Regions from separate parts of the Homo sapiens genome. Here region 2 is linked to region 1. Evidence: fine-mapped expression QTL. A gene starts in region 1. The other region holds a variant in brackets. All regions are shown on one strand. Distances are from middle to middle.

Region 1 (5,365 bases):
GAAGCTCAGACAGCCCAGTCCAAGGGCTGCCAGAGGACAATTTCAGTGAGGGTGGGCCACCTCAACAGGAAAAGGGACACAAGGAGCAGCCAGCCCTGGTCACCTGGGCAAGAAGGCATAGGTGAACACCCAAACTGAGAAGAGAGGAGGGTAATGAGAGCTCTGTGGAAGAGATCACAGCAGATCTCAAATTATCCCTGGGTTCATTCATTCACCAGACATTGATGCACCTACTATATTCCAGTAGAGACACAGTGGTAACAAAACACAGAGCTCCTTCCCAGAAAGGGAAGAACAACATCTTGACAGGCAGGTACGAGGAGTGGTCCCAGCAGGTACCTCACTTTGGGAGGCTGAGGCTGGCGGATCACGAGGTCAGGAGATCGAGACCATCCTGGCTAACATGGTGAAACCCCATCTCTACTAAAAATACAAAAATGAGCTGGGGTGGTGGCATGCGCCTGTAGTCCCTCCTACTCAGGAGACTGACACAGGAGAACTGCTTGAACCCGGGAGGCACAGGTTGCAGTGAGCCAAGATCACGCCATTGCACTCCAGCCAGGGTGACAGTGAGACTCCGTCTCAATAAATAAATAAATAAAAATAAAAATAAAAATAAAAATAGAATGAAGCCTGATGTAATAGGAAAGAAGGGACCCTGAGATAGGAATCGCTGACTCATCAGCTGTGGGGGTGCAGGAGAGGGAGAATCTGGGATGACTAGGGGTTTCAGGGTTTCAGCCTGAGCTGGTGAGAAAAGAAGGGATCCAAGAACAGACACCAGCAACACAGGAGGGGCAAGTGGATGGGCAAGTGGAGGGGCAGGGCCAAGGCCAGGGCACTGTAACTCCTGCTCCCATCACCAAAGGCGGCTCCACTGGTCCCTGCGGCCACCTCCTCTGAAGCAGGCTCCCAGGACCCCAAAGTGAGACCCAGACAATGTTGGGGACACTTCCAGGCCACCGTGGGGAGAGGCAACTTAGCAAATGTTCGCCAGGTGCCAGCAGCTGCGCTCGCCCGTAGGCTCCTCCTAACCCGACAGCTTCCTAACTGTTCACACCTGCTTTTTCGTCGCTGCAAAACAAAGACGCACAGGTTTTACATAGGTCACCCCCGGGGCAGTCTCACAGCCAGAAAGAGACAAGAGCACAGACTCCCTCTGGGGACTGTGCTAGGGCTGTGGCCTCAAACCGAATGGGCTCCTGGGTGAACCTGCTGCGACCTGAGGGGGGTCCCTACAACCTGTGCGAGCCTCAGCTACTGCACCTGTACCTGGGAGGTGCTACTGTCAATCTATCGGTTACGGCAAGGGGCGGTGGAGTGATTCCTCTTGCTGGCCAATTTCACTTCAGTTTGCACCTGGCACAATCAACACTGGCAGAATTAACAAAACTAGACAAATATAGCCTCATGATCATTCATGCCTAGCTCTCGGTCAGTATTCAACTTCTTTCTTGTTCATGGTGTGTTACCCTAGGCAAGTCACTTCCCCTCCCTGGGTCTCCATCATCTCCTCAGTAAACTGGGAGCACAGAATAAAGCGCGTGGGAGGATTAAAGGGGACACTTTGGTCGCCCAACACTTGTTCACTGCATAACGATAATTCCAAGAGCGACATCACAGTAAAGACCCAGGCGCCGATCTAAGCGCGTTTCAGCCTCACGCGACGCCTACGAGGTTGAGCTGCGTCATCGGCCCCATTTCGTAGCGGAGGAAAGCGAGGCACTGGGCGGTCAGGCCGCTTGCCGGAGGTCGCCCAGCGTCCCAGCCGAGGACGCGGAACTCAGGGCCGGTCGGGTGTCAGCGCTCCGGAGCATGCGCAGAGGCAGCACGCCATCGGGGTCTTCAGGGGCCCGCGCAGTTCCTGGCGGGGTCGAACCCGAACTCACCCCGAGGGTCCTAACTCCCCACCTCCGCTGCCCATCCTCTCCAGCCCTATGGCGTCTACAAATCCAGACCTGCGGAAGCCCCAACTCACCCAGCGCCTCGCCCCGAGGAATCCGCCATTTTCCCGCCTTCCACCTCAAGGCCCGACCCGCCGGCTTTTCAAAGCCGGACCCGCCCCCTTGCTTGCGGGTCGGACCATTTGTGGAGACGCAGGAGGGGTGGCTGCGAGGCGTGAGGCAGCGCCGGCTAAGTGTGGAGAGCGCGGCCCCAGACGCGCGCTTCGCCTGTCCTCCCCTCGCACTTGGTCTCGCCCACCATCGGCGGTAGTGGGTAGGGGCGGTGGGTGGGACCTGATCTGTCGGACAGTAGGGGCGGGGCTTTTCGCGATGCCCCGCCCCTAGGAGCGCTGGCGTCACGCCCCCGTCCCCGCCTCTCCGGAACCCGGAAGCGGGAGCGCGCGGGGGAGCGGCGGGCGCGGCGGGGCGGAGCGGCTCGAGCAGCGGCGGGCTGGCAGGCGGTCGTCCGGCCGGGGACCCGGCCCGGGACCGGCGGCGCGCGGCGGCCGAGGCCAGGTGAGTACCAGGCAGCCTCGGGTTGGCGACTCGAGCTCGAAGCCTGCCTTTGGGGGCTGCGCAGAAGAGGGACGGAGCTGAGGGCTGATGGGGGACGCGACGGCAGGGGTCGAGGGGGCGGGAACGAGCCTGGGGGTCTTGGAGAGATTGCTGGGGATGAGGTGGAAGCGAGACGGTGAAGGAGAAAGTGGATGGGGATGGAGCTGGTGAGGGAGTTCGAGGGCGTGGGGGGGGTGAGTCTTGTGGCTTTGAGCAGCTTCTCTGAAGAGGACGTGGCTTAAGTGGTAATTGGGGGGTCGCAGGAAACGGCGTTGTGGGGAGGCACGGAGGCGGGAACGAGAGGCCCAGGCTGGGGGAGTGGGCAAGGCCAGGGGCGGGACAGCCGGGGTGCGGTTGAGGGGAAGGGGTGCGAGACCGATCTGGGGACGTCTGCCCGCGCGATTGAAGGAAGGGTGTCTGAGAAGAGGGCGGCGCCTGGCCCCCAGTGGGCGCTCAGTAAATGCGGGGGGTTCTGAACTAACTGATGCGGCAGCCGGCTATTGGGAAGCGGGGAAATGGGAGCTGGAAGGGAAGTAAACGGAGTAGAAGTCACGGTAAGAACTGAGGGTAGGCTTAGGGAGGGAGGGCCCGGAGAGGAGGGAAGAGAAGGAAGGGGTTAGAGTGGCCCCGTGCAGATAGATGTTGAGATGCAGCCCCTGGAGATTCCGTCCCCCCACCCTCCCCTCTTGATTCGTGTCCCTCCTGACTTCACACTTAACAGCTGGGTGACCTGGGACGAGTCCCAACACCCTCTGTGCCAGTGTCCTCGTCTTGGAAACTTCACCACCCTCCCCTTAAGACAGGACTAGCAGGATTCTGGGATTCCCTGGATCCAAGGAAGGGACCTCAGGGCCGGTTGTGGGGCCGGAACTGTGTTTCAGGAGGGAGTGTGCATGCACCCTCATGTACAGGACTGTCGCCACCTCCGCAGAGCTGCATCCTTGGACTTAAATGGGTAAAACGACATACAGGAAATCTGTCCCCCGGTTGCTCTGAGCTCAGCCCTGGAGAGGCACGACAGCCACGAGCCCTCCTTTCTTTCCTGGGCACCCTGGAGGCCAGGGGTCTTTAAGGGATGGCTTCTCTGCCTCTTTGTCTGAGGTGGGAGCCCGTGGGGACACTTTCCAGCCAGAGAGTCCCAACTCGGTTTGTTTTTTGATGTTGGAGTCTTCAGAATCTTAAGGTGTCCAGGAGCAGCCGGAGGTGACCTGGGCTACAGGAAAGTTATTCACATCTGACAGGCCTGGCTCTTGTGGCCCTGGCAGGGACTTTGTGCAGGGTGCTTTTGATTGGCATTCATTTCTCCCCTTTCCCAACTGTAGGGATCTTTATCTGGGATCTGCCAGAAGGGCTGGGGAACCCCAGCTTATGTTTAGTTTATAGCTCATTCAGGAGATGAACCCGGATAGCTGGAATATAAAGAGGGCCACAGAAAGATAAGCACCCCCTTCACTTCCAGAATATCCTGGCCTTTAGGAAAGGTGGCTTTGGCCTGGCTTGCCCCAGGACATGCAGTGACAGCCCACAGTCATGCCTCCTGCAAACATTGAACTGTAGGCTTGCACTGGCCTACAGAACAGGACCGGGATCTTCTGATCCCGCAGCCCTGCAATCGCCTCTTCCCTGCCGCTAGAGAATGGCCAAGCAGGGTCTTGTGGGGGGAGCACTGTGTTGGAGATCCTGGCTTTGGTCAAGTCTCTGTGCCTGTTTCTGACCTCTCACCTGCAAAATGAATGAATTGACCTCCATCAGCGTTTTTCAACCTTGAAACCCAACTCTTCTCATCACCGTCTTGTCTCCAGTCCATGTCCCCCAGCTCCCGGCCTTGAACTCCTCACAGCACCCCCACTCTCCATTCCTGGCTGCGATGATCCTACTTTTATTCCGTTTTCCATTCGACAGTTTGTATCCAAAAATGATTTTTTTTCAACCGCTTCTTCATCGTCCAAATAGAAAATTGCGGTGTTGAAGGTGCTTTTGCACATTGCACCTATTCCCAAAGCTTTGGAAACTGCAAATTTCTGGAAATCCCGAGGCAGTACCGTCCCTCGGGTCCAGTCTGGTGACTCAGTGGAGCAGGTAGAGACGTGGGAATCTCCCCTTTCTGTTTGGCTGTAGGATTCGTTATTCTCTCCCCACATGGACTTGTTAACTTGCTGCTTCCCATTCCTCATCTCTTCCAAATGGTGTGTCTTGGGTGGGCCTAGATTTCAGTTAGGCAAGGGTTGATTGTGCCAGACACTTGGTAGATTCCTGGGGACAGAGGTGAATCCTTATGACCCAGAGGACGGACACGCTAATGCCCGCCCCCGACAACTTTGCACTTCCTCTTCAGAAAGAATGGAGTTCAAGCTGGGCCGCGGTGGCTCAGGCCTGTAATCCCTTTGGGAGGCCAAGGTGGGTGGATCACAAGGTCAGGAGTTCAAGACCAGCCTGACCAATATGGAGAAACCCTGTCTCCACTAAAAATACAAAAATTAGCCCGGCGTGGTGATGTGCGCCTGTAGTCCCAGCTACTCTGGAGGCTGAGACAGGAGAATTGCTTGAACCCAGGAGGCGGAGTTTGCAGCCAGCCAAGATTGCGCCATTGCACTCCAGTCTGGGTGACAGAGCAAGATGCCCTCAAAAATAATAATAATTAAAAAAAAGAATGGAATTCAGATCAGGTCATCAGTACGGTGACAGAGGGGCCACAAGATATTATGGGGGGAGAATTAGGGACAACCAATGCAAGCTTTAGGACAAGGGGGATTCCAGCAAGTTTCCTCGGAAGTAGTGGCTGGCCCCAGGTCAAACCTGGAAAGATACCACGTGTTAAACCACTCCGGGTGGAAGGGATTGCACAAGCAGATACCTTTGAAGCCCGG
Region 2 (5,365 bases), 32 kb after region 1:
AGAGAGGGAGTTGGGGGCAGGGTCAGACCCCACCCTTTCTGGAGCCTTGACCTCTCGCCTCTTGTTAGTCCCCACAAGCTGAGGGCTGCCATGCAAATTCACTGAAATCACATCTAAGCAGTGCCTAGGAATACATTTCAGTTCCTCTTCCTCTCTGAGGTCATCAGTAAGACATTAATTGGGGTCATACAACTTAGCCCTGGTCCGACATATGTAGCCTATTCCTGTTTTCTCCTGTGCAAGTAACACAGAGATTCATTGTCATTGTTTACATCAGCTTTTAATAAAACTGCTGAGCAATTTCACCATAGAATGTCCATTTTCTTTCCTTTCCCATCCCCTCCCCTCCCCTCCTCTCCCCTCCCCTCTCCTCGCCTCTCCTCTATTCCTTTCTTGTCAGGGTCTCTCTCCGTTACCTAGAATGGAGTGCAGTGGCACAATCATAACTCACCGCAGCCTCGAGAACTTCTGGGCTCAAGCGATCCTCCCACCCAAGTAGCTGGAATTCCAGGTGTGCACCACCATGCCCGGCTAATTTTTAAATTTTCTGTAGAGACACAGTCTTACTATGTTCTCCAGGCTGGTCTCGAACTCCTGGCTTCCAGTGATCCTCCCACCTCAGCTGTTTTTAATATGGCTTGTCTTGTGTGCATTACATTATATACCCAGACCGCCCGTTCATTGCTGTGTGAGCATTTGCTGTGTGGCAGGCTATGATATAGGTGCTGGGCTATGTGGTGGCCAAAGTCAACACAAAATTCTCCCCAGGTAGAACTCGGGGAAGACTCTGGGTGACACAGGAGCTATAGAGGTTCTGAGCAGAGGTAGATGCAACCCAGCTCTGGTCTCCCGAGGCCGCCCTGGCGTCATCCCAGCTCTGAGACTCAGCCACAGTGAAACTGCCAGTGGCCCCAGTGTCCTCCCAGCAGGTGGCCAGGGGGCTCAACGGCTCTCCAGGCCAAAACATCAGTGCCTGGCATCCACACCCGAGATAAAACAGTGATCTTGAAAATTCAGCATGTGTGGCACACACCTGTAATCCCAGAGTCAGGAGGCTGAGTCCTGAGTCAGGAGGATTGCGTGAGCCTAGGAATTCCAGACCAGCCTGGGTAACATTGCAAGACCCCATCTCTACCAAAAAGTTTAAAAACTAGGCTGGGTGCAGTGGCTCATGCCTGTAATCCCAACACTTTGGGAGGCCAAGGCAGGTGGATCACCTGAGGTCAAGAGTTCGAGACCAGCCTGGCAAACATGGTGAAACCCCGTCTCTACTAAAAATACAAAAATTAGCCAGGTGTGGTGGCGAGCGCCTATAATCCCAGGTACTTCGGAGGCTGAGGCAGGAGAATGGCTTGAACTTGGGAGGTGGAGGTTGCAGTGAGCCAATATCGCACCATTGCACTCCAGCCTGGGCAACAAGAGCGAAATCTGTCTCAAAATTAAAAATAAAAATAAAAAATTAGCCAGGCATGGCAGTGCATGCCTGTGGTCTCAGCTCTCAGGAGCTTGAAGTGGGAGGATTGCTTGAGCCCAGAAGTTCAAGACTGCAGTGAGCTGTGATCACACACTGCACTCCAGCCTGGGTGACAGAGCAAGACCCTGTCTCAAAAAAATAACAAAAAAAATTTAGTAGGTGAATGAATGAGAGGGTAGATCCAACATTTACCATGTCAGACATTTTGCCAAATGGGACTAGGCAGGTGGGTAAATGCCTGAGCCCCGCAGAAATGACACGCCCAGCCCCAGGGTCTCAAAGTGGCACGGCCAGGAGGCAGGATTGCCACCTAGGTCTCAGTTCAGGGTCCATGTCCTCCCCACCACGTTGCTGCCTCCACAGCGCCATCTCACTAGGACCCTCCAGGGCGTGGACAAGTTTCCTGTTGCTAAGTGTTAGGGGCAAGGGAGTCTCCAACAACAGGGATTAAGGCTCTCATGGTCCTGGAGGCCAGAAGTCTGAAATCAAGGTGTCCACGGGGCCGCACTCCCTCCCGGCTCTGGGGGAGGATGCTTCAGGCCTCTTCAGCTTCTCTGGTGGCTGCAGATGTGCCCTGGCCTGTGGCCACGTCACATCAGTCTCTGCCTCTGTCGTCAGGGGCGTTCTTCCTGTGTGTCCATGTCTTCACGTGGCTTTCTTATAACAAGGACACCACTCATGGGATGTAGGGCCCATCCTACCCCGGCATGACCTCATCCTACCTAATTGCATTTGCAAAGACCCTATTTCCAAATAAGGTCACATACACAGTTTCTGGGGGTGAGGATGTGGATATAATTTTGGGGGCGGGGGGCTCAAGTCAGCCCACAGCATCCCCCATACAGCCCCACCTGGTCTGCTTCAAGTCCTACCTGGCCCCTGGCAAGTCCCACTTGGTGACATCTTGTGCCTGGGTCCTTGAGGGCTGCCCCAGATCCGCGATTGTCCTGGGGACCGGTAGTTCCTCCCCGGATGCCAGCAAAGCTCCCTCCAGCCTCCACGCCTGCACAGTCTCCAGTATGCCTTCAACAGCCATTAGTCACCCTCTGTGAGTCAGACCCCCGGTCCTGCCAGGCCAACCTGCTTGGGGCCTCAGCAGCGGGGGCTGGCGAGGCCAGTTTTCTCCAGCGGTTCTAAGCCGCTCGAGGGTGGTGCCCACGCCGGCTTCCAAAACAGGCTTGAGCCAAATCCAC[G/A]TCATGGCAATAAACGTGCTTCCTGGGGCGACTGTTTGCAAAGGGATGTGATTGTCTTCACTGAGAGCTGGATTTCTCAACCTGGCTCTGCTGACATTCAGGGCCGGATCGTTCTCTGGGGAGGGAGTCATCCTGTGCATTGAAGGACATTGAGCAGCATCCCTGGCCTCCACCCACCAGATGCCAGGAGCACTCCCCACCCCGCAGGTGTGACACCCAGAAGTGTCCCCAGACATTTCATTGATTAGAGAGGTATTAACAAAATAGCTTCCCGTTGTCCCCTGGGGACAAATCACCCCCTGGGAATAGAACAGCTGTCTTTGAGTTCTTCCCATAAGACCCAATCACTGTTCATTGCAGCCACTGAGCTTTTAGAAATTATCTGTGAGTTCTTTCTGTTCTGTGCTAACTTAAGAGTCATTTTCTTTTTTTCTTTTTTTGAGATAGAGTCTTGCTCTATCGCCCAGGCTGGAGTGCAGTGGCACGATCTCGGCTCACTGGAACCTCTGCCTCCTGGGTTTGATTCTCCTGCCTCAGCCCTCCCGAGTAGCTGGGACTACAGGCGCCCACCACCGTGCCCGGCTAATGTTTGTATTTTTAGTAGAGACGGGTTTCACCATAGTGGCCAGGCTGGTCTCAAACTCCTGACCTCAAGTAATCTGCCCTCCTCAGCCTCCCAAAGTGCTGGGATTATAGGCGTGAGCCACCATGCCTGGCCCCAAGAATCTTTTTTTTAATTTTATTTATTTATTTATTTATTTATTTATTTATTTATTTATTTATTTATTTTGAAACAGAGTTTCTCTCTGTCTCCGGGCTGGAGTGCAGTGGCGCGATCTCGGCTCACTGCAAGTTCTGCCTCCCGGGTTCGTGCCATTCTCCTGCCTCAGCCTCCTGAGTAGCTGGGACTACAGGTGCTCACCACCACACCCAGCTAATTTTTTGTATTTTTAGTAGAGATGGGGTTTCACCGTGTTAGCCAGAATGGTCTCGATCTCCTGACCTCGTGGTCCGCCCACCTCAGCCTCCCAAAGTGCTGGGATTACAAGCATGAGCCACTGCGCCCGGCCATCATTTTCTAATAAGAGGAATAAGACCTCAGGCCCACTGGGTATCAGGGTTTGGGCTTCGTGATTTTCCTCCATCATCTCTAATCCCTCACGGCAGCTCTGCCCATTTTAAAGATGAGGAAACTGAGCCCCAGAGAGACACGTGGATGTGTGAGTTTCCTGAGGTGTCTATAACAAAGTATTACGGGCTGGGAGCCCTCAAACAGCAGGGGTTGATTCTCTCACAGTTCTGGAGGCCAGAAGTTGAAAATCAAGGTGTGGGCAGGGCTGGGTCCCTCTGGAGGCTCTGAGGGAGAATCTGTCCCAGGCCTCTCTCCCGGGTTCTGGTGGCTTCAGCCATCCTTGGAGCTCTGGGCTTGTGGCCGCATCACTCTGCCCTCTCCCTCCGTCGTCACCTGGTCTTCTCCCCTGTGTGTGTCCAATCTCCCTTGCCTTTCTCTCATGGGATCACCTCATCTCAAAATACTTACCTTCATGACATCTGCCAAGACCCCGTTTCCAGATAAAGCCACAGTCACAGGTTCTGGGGGTAAGGACTTAGACATGTCTTTTTTGGGAAGCCACAAGTCAACCCACTGCAGGTAGATTCCCCAGGCCACACCGCAGAGAGCCAAAGCCTAACCCGGGGTTTGAACCCGGCCTGAGCCCCAGCCCCCCGTTCAGGCTGCCTCTCTGCTCTCCCCTCTCTCGCCCGGGCTGCAGAAAGCCGGAGATCAGCACAACTCGCTGCATCGATTGGGGATTTTTTCTCAGCTCCCCGAAAGGAGAAGTTGAGCTGTTTTGAGGTTTGAGTGTCGCTGGATGCACCCCCTGACCCCCGCCCCCCGCGAGGGTTGCAGCCTCGCTGTGTAATGCTGACCAAAAAACAGGAAGGGAGCACTGTGGAAAGCCGGTTCCAATCAGCTGATCTGCCCGCCACTGCAGTTAACTGTTGCCATCACCTTTCACCAAGTCTAGGGGCTGCAGAAGCCATGAGTCTCCCCATCTTCCACATGGCCTCTAGCCTCCCAGTGCAGGCGCCCGTCGACAGCCCAGGGGCTGTGGATAGAGCACCTTACAGCATCGGCCATGGGGTCTCGCCGCAAAGCACACCCAGAACACGCTCCTCTCCCTTTGCCCACAGCCTCAGATCCACCAGGCACTCGCCTCGGTGCCCTTCTGAGAGCAGGCTGAGTCCAGGGGGCCAAAGGCTGGGGTTCCCTTCATCTGTCCTGAACTGTAGCAAGTGCAGCTGGCAGCTGGCAGCGTGCATGGGGTTTTCATTCTGAAAGCAGAAATAAAATAAGGATCCTTGCTTGTCAGGCTGTTGTCCCAAGGGTCCCTGGACTCCATGGAGCCCCTGTGGCCCGGCCCACAGTGGGACACGGTGACAGTGATGGGCTGCAGGGCGCAGAGGGACGCCCCCAGCTGGTGGAGCCAAGCTCACCCGAAGTTGTGCCGATGCCCAGGACATTCCAGTGAGGGACTGAGGAAGGGTCCTGAACGTGCCACTGCCCCAGACCCCCCTCTTGGGGCAAAGGAACCTAGGACTCGTACCCACCTGGACCGGGTCCTGAGCTCCTCCTTAGGGGCCCTACAAACCCAGTCTCATGTTTCCCCCAACTCCCCCAGCCCCTCTGCCATCAGCC

Evidence for each region. PIP is the estimated chance that this variant, and not a neighbour inherited with it, causes the effect.
Region 2: its variant is fine-mapped to the expression of MYO9B in breast (GTEx, PIP 0.95). The same link has a PIP of 0.9 or more in fibroblasts.

Annotation. Positions count from the first base shown.
Region 1 is chr19:17,073,416-17,078,780 of GRCh38, forward strand. It overlaps MYO9B (myosin IXB), which reads left to right and starts at 2,362. Exons shown (of 40, transcript NM_004145.4): 1 at 2,362-2,459. It overlaps HAUS8 (HAUS augmin like complex subunit 8), which reads right to left and starts at 2,037. Exons shown (of 11, transcript NM_033417.2): 1 at 1,979-2,037. The coding sequence starts at 2,007. RefSeq lists an enhancer at 1,780-1,979 and silencers at 2,160-2,509, 2,504-2,798.
Region 2 is chr19:17,105,628-17,110,992 of GRCh38, forward strand. The region is part of intron 2 of MYO9B (myosin IXB); the gene reads left to right. Among named protein-coding and RNA genes, the nearest start is that of SNORA118, 16 kb to the left of the region's middle. RefSeq lists enhancers at 2,623-2,672, 4,705-4,814, 4,778-5,279. The variant G/A (reference allele first, on the strand shown) is at 2,668.